4 linked regions of the Homo sapiens genome follow. The protein of the gene in region 3 interacts with the protein of the main gene of each other region in a pairwise test. Each region holds a gene or a part of one and is shown on either strand. Other genes may lie near its edges.

Region 1 (3,500 bases), on a different chromosome or scaffold from region 3:
AGCAGAATTCAGCCGCATAGCTAATTTTTGCTAAGGGCACACATTAGGAACGTAAGAATATTACCTGCTCAACATTGCTCATATCAAGCCAGTCTTGATCTTCTAGCTCTACTGCCATTTCTTCCAAATACACACAACGGCTAGGGATGCCATTCCCGCTTTTCAAGCTGGGATCACCTGGGAAATGGTTTTAATATGATAGGTTAAGGATAATGCTTCTGTTTTATACAGACAACTGATCTTGACAGCATCACTCTTGAACTGCAAATCTGACTCAAGTAATACCAGAATGATCCTGATACACAAAGCAACATCTAAAGATTCAAATCTTTTTTTTTCCCCCTCTAGTCACAGAGAATGGGATTTGTTATAAACCTAGCATCATGACATTTAAAGAGTAAATCCCAGACATTAGTACCAACCTTGGGGTTTAAACACAGACAGGGCACAGAGGGCAAACACTCTCTGATGCCTCTGAAGGCTTCCATCTGAATATTTAGGTTACCTCTGAGAAGAAAATGGGTTTGGCTACCCTTCCCATTTCCTTTTTAAGGTAGTAAAGGCAAGTAGCTATATAGTGCAGTCAGTATTGAAATGGGAACAAAAGTTAGATCTGCATCTAAATACTGTTTTTAGGTCATACCAAAAGGTTCACTGAAATATAAACCCTGAGTTCCAGGGAGTGCAGTGAGTAGGTTTGTATCTAACCATTAGCTGTAACCAGTTTCAAAGAGCAAGCCCCTAGCCCAAGCTCAAATAGGAAGGGTAGAATAATGCTATAAGTTTGTAACTCACTGTTGTCCAGAGTAATAAGGAAGATCCTTTGGATCATGTGATTGATGTTGAGTTGCTCACATATTTCCTGCTGTGATCGGAATGAGCGGCTAATCTCAGCCACAGAGTAATCGAATTCATCCAGGCTCTCTGACACGCTATTATCCGAGTCATCTGGGCTAGCTGGGAGTTCATCTGCCAGAAAATGTATACTGTTAAATGTTACACCCCTTTAAGAGAGAACCAAGCATGCTACCAAAAATAATAAATGTAACCAAGAAGATGATAATTTCAGATGTAAAACAAGCTAATCATCTAATTAGTGAACATCTCAAGTCAGGGAAGTTAAATATAGGGTTTTGAAATTCCTGGCTATAAATCCTACCACATTTTACAAAGCAAAAGTTTTATTTCTATCCATAATTATACTCCACACTGCCAGAAATAGCAAAGTTATCTTCTCTACAGAATCCTAGTGAACAAAGAATTACCTAATAGATCAAAATGCCTTTAATTATTTTAAATGTATGGCTTTTCTCCCTGATTTTAAGAGATAACATTTGTTTTAATAGTTCTTAACTGTACAGAAAAATATAGTATAGAAAGTCTCCTGAACCAATTCCCTAAAGACACTTAACAGTGTTCAAGAATTTTTTTCTTTTCTGGTGCTAATATTCATTACTATCTTTTTAATTTTTTTAAAAAATGGGATACTATACATAGCTCTTTTCAGCTTGCCTTTTAATCAGCACCAACACCTTTCCCTGTTAGGCCATTTAGAGGCCTACCTCACTATTTTTAATAGCTGTATTGTATCACATCTTTTGCATGCCCTGTGGTTTATGTAGCTACTTTTCAACTGATGAACAATAGGGTTGTTTCTAATATTTCATGATTTTAAATACTGCACTGAATACAATACAACTTAACTCTTTTTGTTTACTTGTATGAGTATTTCTATAGGATAAATTCACAGTAGCAGAACTGCTGGATCAAAGAGCTTGAACATTTAAAAAGTTAACATTTACTGCCTGGCACGGTGGCTCACACCTGTAATCCCAGCACTTTGGGAGGCTGAGGCAGGCGGATCACGAGGTCAGGAGATTGAGACCATCCTGGCTAACATGGTGAAACCCCATCCCTACTAATACAAAAAATTAGCCAGGCGTGGTGGCACACACCTGTAGTCCCAGCTACTCGGGAGGCTGAGGCAGGAGAATTGCTTAAACCCGGGAGGCAGAGGTTGCACTGCACTCCAGCCTCGGTGACAGAGCAAGACTTCGTCTCAAAAAAAAAAAAAAAAAAAAGTTAACATTTACTACCAAGTTACCCTCAAAGAGACTGTCTGATTTACATGCAAACCCAACAGTATATGAGAGAGTGCCTGTTTGAATCTTCACAAATTTCATAGGTAAAAAAACAATTTAATGGTTGTTTTAATTGGCACTTCTCTAATGATTGATGAGAATAAATTTTTTAATCATTTGGTTATAAGTTGCATGTCACATCTTTTGTACCTTTTTATTCTTTCTTGTTATTTTTTTCTTATTGATGAAATTCCTTCGATTTTTTTTTTTTTAAACTTCTGTCCTCAAAATCTGCTCCCATCCTTTGATTTTTTTTTTTGAGATGGACTCTCACTCTGTCGCCCAGGCTGGAGTGCAGTGGTGTGATCTCGGCTCACCGCAACCTCTACCTCCCAGGTTCAAGTGATTCTCCTGCCTCAGCCAAGTAGCTGGGACTACAGGCGCCCACCACCACGCCCGGCTAATTTTTGTATTTTTAGTAGAGATGGGGTTTCACCATGTTGGCCAGGCTGGTCTCAAACTCCTGACCTCAGGTGATCCGCCCACCTTGGCCTCCCAGAGTGCTGGGATTATAGGCGCCTGTCATCATGCCCGACTAATTTTTGTGTTTTTAGTAGAGACGGGGTTTTGTCATGTTGGCCAGGCTGGTCTCGAACTCCTGACCTCCGGTGATCTGCCCACCTAGGCCTCCCAAGGAGCTGGGATTACAGGCGCGAGCCACTGCGCCCAGCCCCATCATTCATGTTGAATGACTACATAAAAGTAGTGTTATTCACTATATGCCACATATGAGTCTATATGTACTTTTCTCTATTGACAGAATGGCTAGTCTGAAAGTCCAGGTAAAACTCTCAAAGTAAGAGTTGTTTCAGTGTGGTGAGTATAAGCTCAACATAGGAAGCCAAAGGTTTTGGCAAAGTACTAATTGCTAGTGGAAACAGGTTGGACCTGGTGGCATGATAAACTCAGTGTAAACAAACTAGGATGATGAGGTGCCAAAATAGTAACAGAAGGGCATGTGCCTGCAATGCTCCCAACTCTAGCCAGATTTATGTCTGTTTATAGCCAGAAGGACAAGCGTTCTGTTGCTCAGCTGCTATACTGTTGAGTTTTTCTCTGACCTCCAATGGTGACAGAAGCTAAGAATCTGTTTAGCAAAATTTCCCTCAACCACATACTCATAAATCATACTTTCTCATTCCTTATTTTTCCTATTTTTCACTCTGCTTTTTCCCCTACAATCTTCTAAACCAGAGTTTCCCATTCTGGCCCCGTATCATAGAAATCTGGGAGAGATTTCAGAGACTGAAAATACCATGTTAAAAAAAATCAACATTGATTTTGTTTTTCCCTTGCATCAATCACTTATCTGTCTTGCCTTTACCTCTTTTTTCTTCAGCCCTTTCTAACTGAAAGGCC
Region 2 (3,500 bases), on a different chromosome or scaffold from region 3:
AGATAGAACTTGCCTATGATGACGACAAGTTCTGTGATGTGAACTGTGCTTTCTCAGTACTGTCTGAAACTAACGAAAGCATTTGATTTTCATGGGGAGGAAACTGGTGATGCCAGCCCCCAGTGACCTTGTGCTCTGCTGCAGCTCACCTCTGGATGATGAACTCCCTGGCGCCATCCCACAGGTGCCCGTGCACGATCCACTCGTCCACCGTCTGCAGGTAAGGCCGCACCGTTTCCACCCAGAGAGAGAAAAGGAGGGAGACCTGAGGCAGAGAGTGTGCACGGTCAGCTCTCAGGGTTCCCTGGTCACTAGGATAAAAGGAGGTTTAAACATTTCTGAAATGCCTTTAAAAAAGTGATCGGATTTCTATGTTTTTTGGGGCACAAAGAAATTAAAAATCCAAAAACATACACTATAAAATCCTTATGAAAAACTCACCTAAATGCCGGGCGTGGTGGCTCACGCCTGTGATCCCAGCACTTTGGGAGACCGAGGTGGGCGGATCACCTGAGGTAAGAAATCGAGACCATCCTGGCCAACATGGTGAAACCCCCTCTCTACTAAAAATACAAAAATTAGCTGGGCATGGTGACACGCGCCTGTAGTCCTGGCTACTTGGGAGGCTGAGGGAGGAGAATTGCTTGAATCTGGCAGGTGGAGGCTGCAATGAGCCAAGATCGTGCCACTACACTCCAGCCTGGCAACAGAGTGACACTGTCTCAAAACAAAAAGAAAAAAAAAAGAAAAAAGAAAAACTCACCTAAATATGGGATGATCATATTGTTTGTAGTCCAGACTGGGAAACTTGAGAGTGAAAGTGACACAGAGGCAGCAGGTGTATCCTGAGATAGCCCAGGCAAGCGAACAAGGTTTCCCTATCTAAATCCTATTACTAGCAAAGCATCCATTAAGGATGAGGAAATTGGCTGGGCATGGTGGCTCACGCCTGTAACCCCAGCACTTTGGGAGGCTGAGGTGGGCAGATCACAAGGGCAGGAGTTTGAGACCAGCCTGGCCAATATGGTGAAACCCCATCTCTATTAAAAAAAAATACAGCTGGGTGTGGTGGCTCATGCCTGTAATCCCAGCACTTTGGAAGGCCGAGGTAGGCGGATCAGGAGGTCAGGAGCTCGAGACCAGCCTGGCCAACATGGTGAAACCCCATCTCTATTAAAAATACAAAAATTAGATGGGCATGGTGGTGGGCGCCTGTAATCCCAGGTACTCAGGAGGCTAAGGCAGGAGAATAGTTTGAACCCAGGAGGCAGAGGTTGCAGTGAGCCAAGATCATGACACTGCACTCCAGCCTGGGCGACAGGGCGAGACTCCATCTCAAACAAAAAACAAAAAAAAACCCCAAAAAATTAGCCGGGCATGGTGATGTGCGCCTGTAGTCCCAGCTACTCAGGGGGCTGAGGCAGAAGAATCACTTGAACCTGGGAGGTGGAGGTTGCAGTGAGCCAAGATCGTGCGACTGCACTCCAGCCTGGCAACAGAGCAAGACTACGTCTCAAAAAAAAAAAAAAAAAAAAAAGAAAAAAAGAAATATGGTATTAAATTGGTGTGAAAAAAAGTTATACCAACAAACTAGAAAATACACCTAATGTACATACCCAACTAAGACTGTAGCATTCTAAATTACAGCCTCTAGTTAGATTTTTATTTTTAAATCTATATATTGTTTGAGACAGGGTCTTGCTCTGTTACCCAAGCTGGAGTGCAGTGGCACAAACATGGCTCACTGCAGCCTTGACCTTCCACACTCAAGCCATCTTCCTGCCTTAGCCTCTCGAGTACCTGGGACCATAGGCATGTGCCTCCAGAGCTGGCTACCTTTTTTGAGACAGAGTCTTGCTCTGTTGCCCAGGCTGGAGTGTAGTGGTGCGATCTCGGCTCACTGCATCCTCCCGGGTTCAAGCAATTCTCCTGCCTCAGCCTCCTGAGTAGCTGGGATGACAGGTGTTCGCCACCACACTAGGCTAATGTTTGTATTTTTAGTAGAGACGGGGTTTCACCATGTTGGCCAGGCTGGTCTCGAATTCCTGGTGTCAGCACACCTGGCTACTTTAAAAATTTTTTGTAGAGACAGGGTCTCAGTATGTTGCCCGGGCTGGTCTCAAATTCCTGGGCTCAAGTGATCCTCTCACCTCAGACTCATATGTAGCTGGGACTACAGGCGTGAGCCACTATGCATGGCCTAGATTTGTATTTTTTAAAATACAATATAAAATATATAACATAAAATTTATCTTAACTGTATATTTTAAAAAATTTTAATTTAACTAATTTTTTAAAGACAGAGTCTTACTATGTTGCCCAGGCAAGTCTCAAACTCCTGGGCTCAATCAATCCTCCTGCCTCGGCCTCCCAAAGTGTTGGGATTACAGGCACGAGCCACTGTGCCTGACCCTCAGCATTTTTAAGTTCAGAGGTTTTAAGTACATTCATATCGTTGTGACAAATCTCCAGAACTTTTTCATGTTATAAAACTGAAACTCTGTACCCATTAAACAACAGCTCCCCATTCCCCAGCCCTTGGTAACCAGCATTCCACTTTGTTTCTGTGGATGTGTCTACTTCAGCTATCTCATGTCATGTTAGTTACATGTTAGTGTTTATGTAAGAAAGCGTTATTGTAAATATCTATACACATCAGGTAGGTACTTCTCACAGCTTGCCTTGTCCTTGCCTCATCCTTCTGAGGATCTTGGCAATTAGAGCTGAAAAGCCAGTTTCCTACAGCCTTAAATTTGGAAGTTAATTTAAAAACTCTGAACTGTCTGACGAGTCATCATTCAAGTATCAACAAAGAACTACCATCAGCTGTCTATCACTCCTCTGCTGTGCAGCATGGAGTCACACACTTTAGGCAGAAGTCTCACTTACGGTTTGCTCAGAGGCTTCTCCAACATTGTCATATTCAAGAATGGCCTTGTACAGGGTGTTAAGCAGGTGAGAGGCCCGGACGACATTTCGAGTATCAGGTGGAACTTCTGCTACTCCAGTACTAAACACTTTGTGCAGAACCTTGAGCTGAGACAATCGAGGTGCCAACTTGTCCACCACTATTGCAAGAGTTATTGTAGTATCTGCAAATATCAATAAATCAAACTCAACAGCAAGGAAAAATACATGCATCTAAAATGTGACATAAATGCTGGCAAATCATCAGGCTTATGGACAGGCAGGGCAAAATGGAGGACGGTGGATTTTAATCTCATACCACAAGGACCTAATTTCCCTAAGGAAGAACTCCTGCAAGTCACAGAGAAAAAGACAACTCAGCAGAAAAATAATGTATAAAGGAACTGACAGTTCATAAAAAAGGAATGATGAGTGATTCTAAAACATACAGAAAGTCACTTGACCTTACTTATAATAAAAGAACGCAAATTAAAATTACACTAGGTAAAACAAAACACCTCCCAATGGGCTAATGTTACAGAGAGGGGTGAGGGAGGCTGTGCCTACAAAGGGCTGCACAAGCAAGCTCCTGG
Region 3 (3,500 bases):
AATTTTCTGATTTTTAATGGGTTCATGAAGACATCTGGGGCCAGTCTGAATTTCTTCCCTGTTTCACTGGCTTTACTCTATTTCATTCTTTTTATTATTATTACTGTTGTTGGTATTACAGTATTATTATTGTCTAGGTGCCAAAAAGGGTTGTTTTTTATTCTCAAAGCTCAGTAATGTATCAAGTATGTCTCAGTGTGTTGATCTTTCTGGGGCAATGTTTAACATGGCATGTCATTTAAACTGAAGATTCAGGTCATCCTTTAGTTCAAAGTAATTTCCCCATTGAACATTCTCTCGTTTTCTTTTATTTTTTTTTCCTTTCCTTTTCCTTTTCTGTTCTCTTGTTCCTGATCATGTATATCTGGGATCTCTCTAATCACCTTTTTTATTCTTCCCCACTTGATTTTAGATGATTTTTCTCAGGCTTGTCTTCCAAATCACTGACAGCACGGCTACAAACACATTCCACATGCCAAAACCAACTCTATAAGATGTGTGCGAATGTCAGAGGAAATCAATTTCAGCAATGTCTTCGTCTGTGTCTTACTGCTTCTAACAGGACTTTTATTTCTGCAGTTCTTTTATTTGTCTTTACTTTTCTTCTTGAGCTCTTCCAGCCTGATTTCCATCCCCTTTGTGATAATATATTTTTGAACATCTTGTGTCTTGTCTTTGAGATTTTTCTCAAAAAGCCCATATTCTCTTTCATTTCTTTGAGGCTGTAGAAAAATTTCTGTAAGAAACGTTCTTTAATGTGCTGGAGGAGCAGTTCTTGATCATATATGTATTTCCCATCTGTCTTTTTCTGTTTTTGTTTCTTGTCTTTATCATTCCTCCCCCCACCCCCTTCTTTTCAATCAACTCTGTCTACCCCAAGGTCTCACTGGCATTCTCTCTGGTATTGGCCTTCTTTGAATGAGGCAGATCTACTGGACCTATCATTTGCTTAAAAGCAGTGGGGAGGGCAAAGGGAGTGAGACAGGGCAGGTGGCCAACCAACTGGAATATTTGCTCCCAAGCACCTTGTCGCCAACCACTGCTCTGCCCCAGAGAGACACATTAGAGTTGGGGTTAGGGCTGGGGTTAGGGTTAGAGTTACGGTTAGGGTTAGGGTTAGGGTTAGGGTTAGGGTTAGGGTTAGGGCATCCTCCACTCTGAGGCTCACAGATTAGGCAGAAGGCCACTGTGGCTAGAAACGAAGTTTGGGCAATTCTAGTCTCTCTCTTGACTGGCTGGGGCCTAGATTCTTTTCTCTGCTCAGCAGTCACAATGCAAAATGCCACTTCCCTCCTTTCCTCCCTCTTTACCTCCCCTCCAGACTGTTCCTCTGGATTAGGTGCTGGGTCACAGCCTAGAAAGATGGCGTCTCTGTGTGGCTCCTCCTTCAATTCTGCCTCCCTAGAGATCTCAGCTCAACAAGGGTCTCTATAGGGAAGTTCTGTGATTCCCTCCTGGCCCATCTCATGCTCTAGGCCTCAAGCAAAGAAGTTTGAGTTGGGTATTTCAGGACTGTGTTCTTTACCTTTTGAGAAATCTGAACTTTGCTAAAGATACGGAGAAACATGTAATGGTTCTGTGGCTCCTCCCACTGAAAGAAGCTTCCTACTCTTTAAGTCGATGATCTGTCATCCCTTTGTAGTTTTACAAAAAAGATGAAGCTAATACCCTATTTTGATATTGTTTTTGCTGGGTTTCTGGCAGGGGAATAAATTATAAATCCCTTCACACTCTCATCTTTTACCATAATTCCCTTAGATTGATTCTCATTTCCTTTCAGAAGTACTCCATCCTGGAAGATCATTAAGCTGTTGGGTATTGTGAGTGCTAAATGGCCTTGCAGATTTTTCTTCTGGGTCTTATAGTGGAGCCATGAACTGCAATCTCACTCTAAAGCTTACCCTTTCTACTGAAATTTAAAATCGTCTTTTCTCATGGGAGCTAAACAAGGGGCCATGAATGCTCTGTGGCTGGGATATTTCTCCCCCTCTTCTTCAAGTTTCATGTGTTTCTGCAATGCTACGCTGGTCACAGTAGGGACTAAAAAGCATTTACCAAAAGGGACTCAATCAAAACACAGCTACATAAATATCCTGTTAGAAGGCAGCTCCCAAATTTAGCAGGTTTTGAGGGGTGGAGATGCTTTCATTAAATTTTGGATATTGGTGGACTGGCAAAGCTATTGAAAAGACATCTGCCCAAGGGATCAGCAACCTCCTGAAGGCCTGCATTTCAAGTCAGTATCCTCACGCACAAAAAGGAAGGGAGAAGAAGGGAGCAACAGGGCCAGGACCGAGAGGGGAAGAGGATAGAAAGAAGAAATGCAGGAAGACAAAGGCAAAAGAATGAAGCAGAGTCACCAGGGGTGGCCGGGAGCCCACAGGAGCCTCAGCACCATAGACTGTGTGAAGCTAACATGTAATTTATTTATTTATTTATTTATTTATTTATTTATTTATTTATTTGTTTGTTTATTTGACAGAGTCTTGCTCTGTTGCCCAGGCTGGAGTGAGTGCTCACTGCAACCTCCGCCTCCTGGGTTCAAATGATTCTCGTGCCTCAGCCTCCCAAATGCATGGGACTACAGGCGCACACCACCACACCTAGCTAATTTTTTTATTTTTTGTAGAGATAGGGTTTCTCCATGTTGGCCAGGCTGGTCTCAAACTCCTGGCCTCAAGTGATCTGCCCATCTTGGCCTCCCAAAGTGCTGGGATTACAGGCATGAGCCACTGCGCCTGGCCGCTACCTTGTAATTTCTAAATGCTAACTAAATGTGTTATTAGAACAAACAGTCCATGACTTATTTTTCCTGGTGTTTCTCCCATCTCCCCTACACTTATACCAACCACCTGGCTCTGGCCCTGGCAGGATTTTAATCATAAAAATGCCCCAGAGCCAGGCATGGGCTTCTTCCTGAGGTATCTGGAGCTGCTAAGGGCCAAGGACATAGCAATCTCATCACAGCAATCACATTCAACTTCTATAAGTGATAGAGCGGCTGGGAGCGCTGCTGTGCTGAGAGACAGCAACAGCTACAGAGTCCGAGTGTGGGGATATCCGCTTGGAGCTCCAGGGGTCACTCTTGGAAGCTCCGATTTACTAGCGCAGGCAGTGGGTCGGGGACTTACATTTCTTGTTTTTTTGGGGTTTTTGTTTGTTTGTTTTTTGTTTTTTTTCTGAGACGGAGTCTTGCTCTGTCACCCAAGCTGGAGTTCAGTGGTGTGATCTTGGCTCACTGCAATGTCTGCCTCCCGGGTTCAAGCGATTCTCCTGCCTCAGCCCCCCAGGTAGCTGGGAGTACAGGTGCCCGCCACCACACCTGGCTAATTTTTTGTATTTTTAGTAGATAGGGAGTTTCACCATGTTAGCCAGGATGGTCTCGATCTCCTGACTTCGTGACCTGCCCGCCTTGGCCTCCCAAAGTGCTGGGATTACAGGCGTGAGCCGCCATGCCTGGCCCGGGGACTCACATTTCTAAAAAGCTCCCCAGACAGTTT
Region 4 (3,500 bases), on a different chromosome or scaffold from region 3:
CTTATATGCACACAAGTTATCTACTATCTTCTTTGGTTAGGTTAAAAATTCCTTCAGAACATAAATGCTCTTATATTCCCTCTATCACGTCTTTAAGCACATAGAAGGAACTCAAATATTTGCCTAATTGACAAGTTGTTTATGACTGGAGATTCCCCCATTCATTCTTTAGGTTAACAACCCAAATAAATGAGGGGTGATCCTGGAAACAGTCCAGTAGAAAGTACTTAAAAGGTACAGTCAGAGATTGTTGGATAGATAATGTTGGCAATTGTAGAGTCTAGGTGCTGGGTTTATGGGAGTTTATGCTTCTTTCAGTTCCATTTGAAATAATTTTTAAAACGTTGGAGGAAAGGTAATCAGTAGGAAAAAGTCACAAAAATTGGACTAGAATTCCTGAGTACCCATAGAGGTATGCAGAAACATGGTACAATTTAAAATTAACTACAAATATGGGTACAGTATTAACTAAAATACAAATGAAGAAAAAACTTGAGCTTTCAAATTTCTGTTTTGTTTAGAGCAACCACCAAAATTTTCTTTTGCTATTCTATCCAGGGTTAAACAAAATAGTCTAGAAGCATCATGTCAGGGATAGAGTCTAGAAGCATCTATAGCCTAGAAGCATCATGTCAGGGACGGAGGCACATTGGAAAAGCATCAGCCACTGGAACCAGACAAACCTGGACTTGAATCCCTGCTGTTACTTACTAGCTCTGTGGTCCTGTCCAAAAGTTTATTTCTTTGTCCCTAAAGGTGAAATACATATCTTTCCAGCACAGAATTTCTGGTCAGACATGGCTTTTTCAAATCATGTTTACCTCTGCTCTCTCCCAAAACTCCATTAAAAGGACAGGAAAGAAATAGGAAGGTAAAATTATAAAGATGATGAAAGAATCCGAATGGCCATTTAGATTCTCAATAGTGACAATGAAACAGTGGCTTCGAGTCTCAAAAAGTGATACTCAGGCTAAAATTCTATATATAGCCAAACTAGGAATCAAGTATAAGGGTCGAATAAAGACATTTTCAGACTTACAAAGTCTTAGAGATTTTGCCTCCCAGGCACCCTTTCTCAGGAAGCTAGTAGAGTCTTGTGTTCTACAAAAAGTAGACCAAGAAAGAGGGAAAAGGGGGAATCCAGAAAACAGGAGTCTAACACAGGAGGTAAAAGAAATCCCCAAGAAGGTTATAGGAAATACCAGAGCAACAGCTAGCTGTACACCCTGCCTAGAGGGCATCAAGTACAAATTGGATAAAGGAGCACTAAGGACTCCTGCAGGGATAACTCTAACAAGGATTATTCAATATGTTTTAATATATTGAGACACTTATGCTTCTAGAAGATTTGGGAATGAATCACTGATGGGTATACACAGAAAATTTTTTGAAACACTGTTAATGCCAAAGACAATAAAAGTTACATAAGTAAATTTAATCATAGCATACTACATAGCTCAGCTGTATTAGTTATGTAGACTTTTGATCTAATCTATAATTGTGACAAAACTATACCGAGAGAATGAAGAAGTGGAAATATATGTGGAACAGAGCCTTCCTCCATGGTATGAAATAGATTTCTTTAAAAAATAAAAAAAAAAGAAGTGAACAATATAAGCATATTACTTAGAAACATGGAGGTATATACCTGAAAAACTCAAGAGTTGAAAGTGGTCACCTCTGGGGAGTGGGAATCTTGAATGGGAGGAATGGGCTGGGGCTTTTTTGTTATAAGCCTTGACTTTTTAAATTATGATCATGTGTAACTGATAAAAATAAAAGTTAGAATAAAAGCACTAGCACAATGTCTGCCATAAAGTAGGCCCTTGATAAAGAATGGACATTTATCTAATTGTCCCATCTCTCCACTGCTGCTGCCCCACTTCTTGCATTCAGCAATATAGACATCTGATCCGTTCCTCAAGATTCTATTCTCACCCTTCCTAACAAAGTATGACAGGAAAAAAAAAAAAATCACGGTTTCAATGGACACTTTTATTGTTTACTTAATGGATCATCAATTTTGTCTCACTACCTACAAATGGAATTTCATCTTGTTTCCATGCTGAGTAGTGAAACAGTGACAAAGCTAATCATAATAACCTACATCAAAAGAGAACTAAGCTAACACTGCTCACTTTCTTTTTAACAGGCAAAATATAAATATATGCACTCTAGAATGCACAATGGTTTAGTCACTAAAAAATTCAAATGGGATCTTGAAGAATGTATGCAAATCCAGGGTGCAGTGAAGATGAGCTGAGATGCTGTGCAACTGTTTAAGGGTTCCTGGCACTGCATCTCTTGGCCACTAGCTGAATCTTGACATGGAAGGTTTTAGCTAATGCCAAGTGGAGATGCAGAAAATGCTAAGTTGACTTAGGGGCTGTGCACAGGAACTAAAAGGCAGGAAAGTACTAAATATTGCTGAGAGCATCCACCCCAGGAAGGACTTTACCTGTTTTTGAGAGAGCACACATACATAGACAGCATTACTATAGGGCCCAGTAAGCCAGATTTCCCCCACTTTATCTTCCCAATAACATGCCAGCTCTTTTTTAGGATATATGGCCAGGAGCTGGCCAACTTTTACATTGTGGATTCCAGGTCTACTAGACCATAACTCTCAGACCAAGTTTCTATCTGTCCCTCCCCGCCTCAGTGGATGCCAGGAGCTTTATCTGAAGTTCCTCTGTACTGCCCAGGTAGTAATGACTGCTAATGACAACACTACCTTCTAACTTTCTCCACTCCATTCTACCCACCTCTCACTGCACAGTCCACCCTTATCCCAAACAAGCCAAAAAACAGAAGACCCTCACCTTCCAGGAGCTCCAAACTGGCACCACCCCCAGTGCTCACATGGCTGACTTTATCCTCCGTGTTCCATTTGGCACAGCAAGTGGCAGTGTCTCCACCACCTGTTGAATGAAAGCCAGGTAAAAAGGGAAAAGAGAGAAAAGAAAAAAAAGGGATTGGCACCAAAACTGTAAGGCAGTGTGCTCCCCAACCCAAAAGGTAGCTGATAAACCCCCAACTCTATCTTACCAAGAGGCTCCTCTGTAAATTACCTACCTGTTTACCTCTTAACATTTACCCAGAATAAAGAGACATAGAAGAAGTTCTCCATTCCACCTTCCTCTGATCAGAATTCTGCCAGCTTATATGGGTATTAGCTTTGTATAGGACCGCTTACCTATGATGGTGATGCAGCCCCTAGAAGTGGCTTTCACCACCTCATCCATGAGAGCTTTGGTTCCCCGGGCAAAAGCTTCCCATTCAAATACCCCCACAGGACCATTCCACACAATCTGCTTAGCCCGAGTGACAGCCTCAGCATACTTCTTGCTGCTTTCAGGACCACAGTCCAAGCCCTGAGGGGTAGAGGTGAAAGAGAAGATGAGCTATCAAGAAAAGCTACTTAAACACCACCTCCACCAAGACCAGAACTCAGGGCTGCACACCAAAGTTTCTTCTAGAAACAAATAGTACCCTTCAGT

Evidence for each region.
Region 1: the proteins of CLIC6 (region 3) and UBE4A interact in a two-hybrid assay, tested with the Homo sapiens proteins (one large-scale study listed by BioGRID and IntAct).
Region 2: the proteins of CLIC6 (region 3) and TUBGCP5 interact in a two-hybrid assay, tested with the Homo sapiens proteins (one large-scale study listed by BioGRID and IntAct).
Region 4: the proteins of CLIC6 (region 3) and PGK1 interact in a two-hybrid assay, tested with the Homo sapiens proteins (one large-scale study listed by BioGRID and IntAct).

The regions. Positions count from the first base shown.
Region 1 is NC_000011.10:118,366,100-118,369,599, reverse strand, and holds part of UBE4A (ubiquitin conjugation factor E4 A), read right to left. Parts: intron 970-3,500; coding exon 796-969; intron 178-795; coding exon 65-177; intron 1-64.
Region 2 is NC_000015.10:23,019,070-23,022,569, forward strand, and holds part of TUBGCP5 (gamma-tubulin complex component 5), read right to left. Parts: intron 3,093-3,500; coding exon 2,890-3,092; intron 312-2,889; coding exon of another isoform or gene 266-311; coding exon 150-265; intron 1-149. UniProt on the Homo sapiens protein: Component of the gamma-tubulin ring complex (gTuRC) which mediates microtubule nucleation.
Region 3 is NC_000021.9:34,710,494-34,713,993, reverse strand, and holds part of CLIC6 (chloride intracellular channel protein 6), read right to left. Parts: intron 1-3,500. UniProt on the Homo sapiens protein: In the soluble state, catalyzes glutaredoxin-like thiol disulfide exchange reactions with reduced glutathione as electron donor. Can insert into membranes and form voltage-dependent chloride-selective channels.
Region 4 is NC_000023.11:78,124,748-78,128,247, reverse strand, and holds part of PGK1 (phosphoglycerate kinase 1), read right to left. Parts: intron 3,375-3,500; coding exon 3,197-3,374; intron 2,922-3,196; coding exon 2,823-2,921; intron 2,459-2,822; coding exon 2,418-2,458; 3' UTR 1-2,417. UniProt on the Homo sapiens protein: Catalyzes one of the two ATP producing reactions in the glycolytic pathway via the reversible conversion of 1,3-diphosphoglycerate to 3-phosphoglycerate.